Linked DNA regions of Homo sapiens. The protein of the gene in region 2 purifies or fractionates together with the protein of the main gene of each other region. This does not show direct contact. Each region holds a gene or a part of one and is shown on either strand. Other genes may lie near its edges.

What was found. The genes of interacting proteins can lie anywhere in the genome.
Region 1: the proteins of ZSWIM9 (region 2) and ADNP2 purify together in Homo sapiens (affinity purification with mass spectrometry, with the first as the bait; one large-scale study listed by BioGRID). This does not show direct contact.

The regions. Positions count from the first base shown.
Region 1 is NC_000018.10:80,112,262-80,115,761, reverse strand, and holds part of ADNP2 (activity-dependent neuroprotector homeobox protein 2), read right to left. Parts: intron 1-3,500. UniProt on the Homo sapiens protein: May be involved in transcriptional regulation. May play a role in neuronal function; perhaps involved in protection of brain tissues from oxidative stress. May be involved in erythroid differentiation.
Region 2 is NC_000019.10:48,194,680-48,198,120, reverse strand, and holds the end of ZSWIM9 (uncharacterized protein ZSWIM9), read right to left. Parts: coding exon 1,294-3,441; 3' UTR 501-1,293; downstream 1-500.

The sequences.
Region 1 (3,500 bases), on a different chromosome or scaffold from region 2:
GGCTGGGAGAACTGGGAAGTGATGGAAGCAGGGCTTCTTCGTTCTGAACTCAACTGTGGTGATGTATACGCAATGTGAATGAGCCCACAGCCATTCACTGTACACTTCAAACTGGTGAATTGTATGGTACATAAATTATATCTCAAGCTGTTTAAAACAATATCTAAAAAGGCACAAAATTAAAATAAACCCTGTAGTACTTGACCAGACTAGGGGTTACTGAAGTGAACTCATTGTTTTCAACACACAGATAGAAGAATAGAGATAGTTTGAGAGTGTGTGTCCACATACACACATACATTCCATAGCTCTGCCCACTGAGAGTGCCTGGATGCAGTTATACACCCCAGTAGCAGTGGGCACAACTAGGGCTCAAACCTGAATTCCTAAATACCGCTTTCCTTTAAAAAGAACCCTAGGAAAAATGGCTGGAGCATGGTAAAGACAAGATGAGCCTAGAACATCCTGTGCCGGAATATAAAGCAGTTGCTCAATGAGGCATGTCAACAGAACACAGAAGTAACCAGCTTGAAAGGGCTCCCATAGGCCAGATACGAGACAATGTGGGCATATATCAAGTAACAGATACAACCTGTGGCAAAGTGAATTTTCCAAACACACAATACCTTCCAACCCACATGCTCTTACAATACGGCCCTAACACTCCTCCCAAAAGTGGCAGCATCTAATGCCCCCTCCTGACCTTTGGGCAGAACTTTGTGGCTGCCTTGACCAATCAAGTATGGAGGAAATAATGCCATGAGAATTCCAAGACTAGATCATAAAAATGCCACATACCTCTCTCAGGATGATCATGCCCAGAATCTAGATACCACATGTGTAGAAAGTGCCAACTAGCCCACAGAGACACCAGGTAGAGGTGTTCCACATCAACTACCAGCATGGGAGTGAAGATGCCTCTTGAGGATTCCAGCCCTAGCTGTCAAGTCACCCCCTGCCTTTGAGTCTTCCCAGATGAGGCCCAGACACTGTGGACCAGAAACAAACCATCTCCCTTCCCTGTCTGAATAGAACTGACCCAGAGAACTGATGCGCTTCTTAAATAAAATGTCTTACTCCAGTAAGTTTGGGGTGGTTTGGTATACAGTGATAATCTATATAGTTATATAGACTATAACCCGCTCGAATGTAGTGATTTCCTGATTTTGATGGTTTTGTTATGGATATGTAGGAGAATGTTCTTGTTTGTAGTATTTAGGGTAATGTGGCAACTTTTTTGGCAACTTATTCTCAAGTGATTCAGGGAAAAAAGTTATTTGTACTATACTTGTAACTTTCCTAAAAATCTGCCAACTATTCCAAAATTTAAATGTGTAGGCTATAAAAGCTAAAATATATATCAGTCAAACTCAAGTGGCAAATATTTGGTTATTCAACTTTAATAATAAAGAAATGCCATTTAAAATGTCAAATTTTTATTATCAAAACAGTAACTATTAAGATTACTAACATCTGGTGGTAGTAAAAGTAGAAAAATTTTAATTTTTATGCTTTTACAGGGTAATTTGGCAATACCTCTCAAGATCTTTTTTTTCTTTTTTTTTTTTTGAGACAGGGTCTTGCTCCTTCACCCAGGCTGGAGTATAGTGGCTTGATTACAGCTCACTGCAGCCTCAACCTCCCAACCTCAAGCAATCCTCCTGCCTCAACCTCATGAGTAGCTTGGACTACCGATGTATGCCACCACACCTGGCTAACTTTTTTTTATTTTTTGGTAGAGACAGGGTCTCCCTATGTTACCCAGGCTGGTCTTGAACTCCTGAGCTCAAGCAATCCTCCCCGTCAGCCTCTCAAAGTACGGGGATTACAGGCATGAACCACCATGCCCAGCTCTCTCATGATTTTTAAGGACAATTTCTGAGTAAGCAATTCTACTTCTACATTCCTCTCTTGTATCCACCACCCAAGGACAGGCTTAGTGATCCCTCCTAGGACTTAGTACCATAACCACATACCACTCCACTGCACTCGACTCACCATGTTGCAATTATCTACTTATATATCCATTTCTCCTATTGGGCTGAACTACTCCAGGGCAGAAATCATGTTATATTTGCTTGAGAGGGTCCCATCACAGAGCACAGTACGTAGCAAATGTTCATTAAATGAACAAAAGATATAAAATAAAACAGGATAAGAACCGTAAGATATGCAGAAAGTGCTAGGAGGTTCTAAAGAGGACATGGCTATGGAAAGCTGGTGCCCAAGACATACAAGGTGAATAAATTAGCATCAAAAAATTATTGAGGTAAAGAAGGAAAAGTCTGAATTTATTTGGCAAAAGTAAAACCAAAAAGGTGGACTGGAATCAAACTGGGAGAGGAGTGGGAGGCAGAAAGGGTTAACATATAATAGGGAGAAATTTTTGGTGGGTAACAAGCAAACACCAAGTTTTTGAGAAGCTGTTTTGAAGCGGATAAATTTCTTTTCAAAGTTATCTATGTGAAAAATGTATCCTGGTCTCAGCAAAAGGAGAGATTTAAGGATCATTAGCATTGTAGAACTGGGAGGATAAAAATTTAAAAATTTTCTTTATAAAATTTTAAGTTTAAAAATTTTCTTTAATAAAATGCACTGATTTGGGTTCTAGCCTTCAAAAGCTTACACTCTCACACAAGAGCTGCCATAACCTCATTATGCATTTCTAAACACTAAGCTCAAGGTCACTTTCTGGCCCAGTCCAGCTTCTTTGGTCAGAGCAAAACTCAACGAAAATTTTGTTAGCTGCTTTCCAGGGACTCTATCAGACTTGATTTCATTTCCTCCTTAAAGTTCCACTATCCTCTCTATCCTCTGGGGTTCTTCTCCAAAAGCTGGCTGACAAACAGTGTTGTCTAAAGTAGGGACCATCATCCATATGTATCTGAAACAGGGAAGCTAAATTTACTGCTTCCAAGAAAATCTCAACTCACACAGCCAGAGCTGATCTTATCACAGAGTTTTGAGAAGCCTGGGATACAAAGACTGGTGGACTTTTAAAAGCAGAGTGATTGGGGATTGGCTGATTCATGTAAGCATGGTTGTACATACATGAACCTCAGAAAGGGGTTACTAAAATGAGGCTCTCAGAGATTGGGCAGGGGTCTGTGGTTACTTGTTCAAGGCTTGGGACTAGGGCCAAGGAGTTGTCACTTTTTTATTTTTTTCCCTTGAATTTGAAAAATAGGAACTTTTTATTCTCAAATGAAAGTGCTTCCATTCCTTCATCGTTATTGTGGCCCTTCTAAACAAAACAAAACACAAGCACACAAATACCTTTTCATTTAAAAAAAGGAGGGGGAAAAGTTCCCCCCTCCTTTTTTTTTTTGTTTAGCAGTTTCCTAACTGCTTTAGGGAAACCAACAAAGGATAAAAAATAAAATGCAAGTAAATTACAGGTTTCATAACTGTTGCCAACCACTTTGGGGATGGGAAGCTGACTTTTACCCATAATTTATCCATTCTAAGCTACCACAATTTATTCATTCTTAGATCCATTC
Region 2 (3,441 bases):
ACAGAGCAAGACTCAAAAAAAAAAAAAAAAAAGCTTCCTAGTTCTGAGCACAGTGGCTCACACCTGTAATCCCAGCACTTTGGGAGGCTGTGGCAGGAGGATTGCTTAAGCCGAGGAGTCCAAGACCAGCCTGAGTAACATAGCAAGACCCTGTTTCTACAAAAATATAAAAATAAAAAAGCCTCCCACCTCAACCTGAGCAGACTCGTTGACCAGGACTGGGTCACAGGCCCATTCTGTGGCCAGGACATTTGGCATGAGTCAGTCATTTGAAGGTAGAATCGACTCATGTCAAGAAGTTGCCACTGGGACGCACTGGTCCAGATGATGGAGGAGGAAGCTTGAGTTGCTATGGAGATGAATTCATTGTGGCTCCTCTATCCATCTGGCCCCAGGAGGCCTTGTCGGTAGAAAGAATGAAGGAACGCTGGACCATCTCAACTGTTCCCTGGATCTGGGACTCCCAACCAACCCCAGAAGCCAAGAACTCATCACGGAAACCAAAATAAGATTGTTTTATTCCAATCCTGAAGAACAATAGTCCAAACAATTCCCCTCCCCTGCTGGAGACTCTCCTGACCCCCAGTGCCCGCCCTCCCTCTCTCTTCAGAAGGCGATGGGGGTCGATGTCTCCAGGTCTTGGAGAAAAACCAAAACCACGCCCCTTGCATTTCGTCTCTACCCGTCTCCCACACATTTCTTTTGTCTCATCTCCGATTTTTCTTCCCCCTCCTACATCCCGTCCCTTCCTCTCCTGCTTCCCCCAGCTTTTCCTCATGTCTTCATTTCTGTCTCTTTGCTTGTCCTCTCTCCTCCATTTCCGGCTCCCCTTTCCATTTTTTCTCGCTTACCTCCTCTCCTTCATCTGTCTTCTGTACTTTCTCCCTTTCCCCTCTCCCCGCTGCACTCCCTAGACTGGCCAGTCTACTCTTGCCAGACACTCCCCATATGATCGCTTCCTCCCCCTCCCCCCAGCTCTGCCCCTTTCCTTCCTTCTGTCCCAGCCTGACCCTGTCTACACCTCTCATCACATGCTTCCTCTCCAGAGGGAAGCCCTCAGAATCCACCCTGCCCATCAACACCTTCCCAAGCTGTGGCTCCAGGACCTCAGAGACCACTTACAGCTTGCCCTTGGACCCAGAGAGGCAAACTGCCATGAGGAGGTCCCTGGATGACCCAGAAGGTGGCCAGGGGGACTGCAACGGTCTCCTTGGCCTCAGCCCTATTATCTTTGGGATCGAAGAATGCCCTCCGACCCTCCTGGTGGAGGGTGGTGGGCAGAGGCATGAAGGGTCAGGGCTCTGGGGCTCTCCCCCAGCAATCCCTGAGCAGGTCCATGTGGAATAAGGCAGCCCCAGTGAGGAGGCGCGCTGCAAAGAGGTGTCTGCAGGGCAGACGGCGGGCGGCGTGAATTGAGCAGCTGCAGCGTGTCAGGGCCCCATCCAGGAAGAAGTCCGAGGTGCCGTCCTTAAGGGCAAAGCCAGCTCCGGTCCAGTGGAAACCCCGGGTCCCATGCTGCCTAGCAAAGGCCAACTCCTCAGCCACCAGGTCTGCCAGCTCTGGCCCGCAGGCTGCTCGGAATTTGGCCAGGGGTTCCCAGTCCACCTCCTCCTCTCCCGGGGGTCGGCAAAGCCTCTTTGGTTCCCTGGGGCCATCTTCGCCTCCTTCCTGCAGGCCGTCACCTGCAGCCAGGTGTTCACTCCTCGCCGCTGCCCATTCTGGGCTGCCTTCCAATACAGTCCCCACCGGGGTGCCAGACACGACTCCATTCCCCAGCCCTAGACACCGCCCTCCTGCGTCTCCCCACTCCATCCCTCGTCCGGCTCGGCTCTTGGGGCCCACGGACCGGGCTCCCCCTCCATCTCCATTCTCCATGCCTGTGACCCTCGTGTCTCCCAGCTGGACCAGAACTATATCCTCCAGGCCCCTTCTTCTTTTGACCCCCACCCTCGCTCCCCTCTCCTCTGCAATCTCTGGCCCTCTCCTCCTCTCATCTTCCCACTGGGGTCCCCTTTGGTCTCCGTTCTCAGGGGCCAACTCCAGGGACTTCTCCAAGGGGATCCCCCTCAAGTTTCTGACCTCCAGCCCCCTCCCCTTCTCTACTTCTGACTGTGGCCCCTTCCATTCTGCAGTTCTCAGTCCCCCTGCCCTTTCATCGTGCAGCTGCGCCCCCCTCCAGGGGCTTCCTTCAAGACTCCTGACCCTCTCATAGTCAAACTGGGTCCCCCTCAGGTCGGTGGTACTCCTGCGATCTTCCAGCTGGGCCACCCTCCAGGTATACCCTTCCAATCCTCTTAGCGCCTGGTCCTCCAACTGGGACCCCCTCCAGACATAACCTTCCAGTCCCCAATCTTTCTCACCCTCCAACTGGGGCCCCCTCCAGTCTCTAATCTCTGGCCCTCTCAGGTGCCCTTTCTCTAACTTCGACCCTCTCAAGACACCCCCTTCCAGTCCCCTCGGCTTCTGATTCTCCAACCGACCCCCTCTCCAATCTCTGATCTGCAGTGCCCTCCCCTTCTCACCTTCGAACTGAGCCCCGCCCCAGTCTCTGGTTTCCAGTGCCCTTGCCCACTCCTTCTCCATCTGGGCTCCCCTCCAAATACTTCCTTCTTTCGGAGCCCCTCCCCAGTCGCCTGTCTCCAGGCCCCTCACCCTCTCGTTCTCCCCCTGGGCTCCCCTCCCTGGCTCATCCTCCAGCCAAGGCCCCCCGCCATCGGGCCCCTCGGGCACCGCCTCCCCGGCCGCGTCGGCCCACTGCATGGCCACCAGGTCGCGAAGGCACTGCGCCACGCCACGCGAGGGGCTGAGACGACGCAGCAGTCGCCGGCGGTGGCCTCGCACCAGGGCACACGCGTCCAGGTCTCTGGCCGCCTCGAAGGCGCGGAAGCGGACCCACATGTCGCGGCGGGGCTCCCAGTTGCGCTCGAAGTAGTCCACGAAGGCGGCTGGGCCGTGGGCGTGGAGCTCGGCCAGCGCCTCGTCGTAGGCTGCGGGCGACGACGCGCCAGCCAGGCGGCACAGGCGCGACCACAGGCCCGGGTCCTCGCGGCCGGCGCCGCCCAGCTCCTGCGCCTTGCTGAAGAGCGTCTCCAGGCCCTGCGCGCGGCAGATCTGCACGCGCGCGCAGGGCAGCAGCTGGCGCACTGCAGGCAACTGCGCCGCCACCTCGGGCCCGGCGGTGAGGCAGCGCACGCGGCCCTTGACGTCTGGCGCGCTCTGCAGCAGCGACGCGAGCGCGAAGCGCAGCAGGCTCGGTGTGCCCGGGCGCGCCACGCAGCAGGCAGCCTGGCGCGCACGGCCCGAGCCGTCCACGCACAGCACGGCCAGCAGATCCAGCGCGCCCTGCAGCCCCGGCAGCCGGTCCACCAGCAGCATGCGAGGGAAGCGCCGCAGCAGCGCCCTGGTGCGCGACGTCAGGAAGAACACCGTCTCCACCACAGC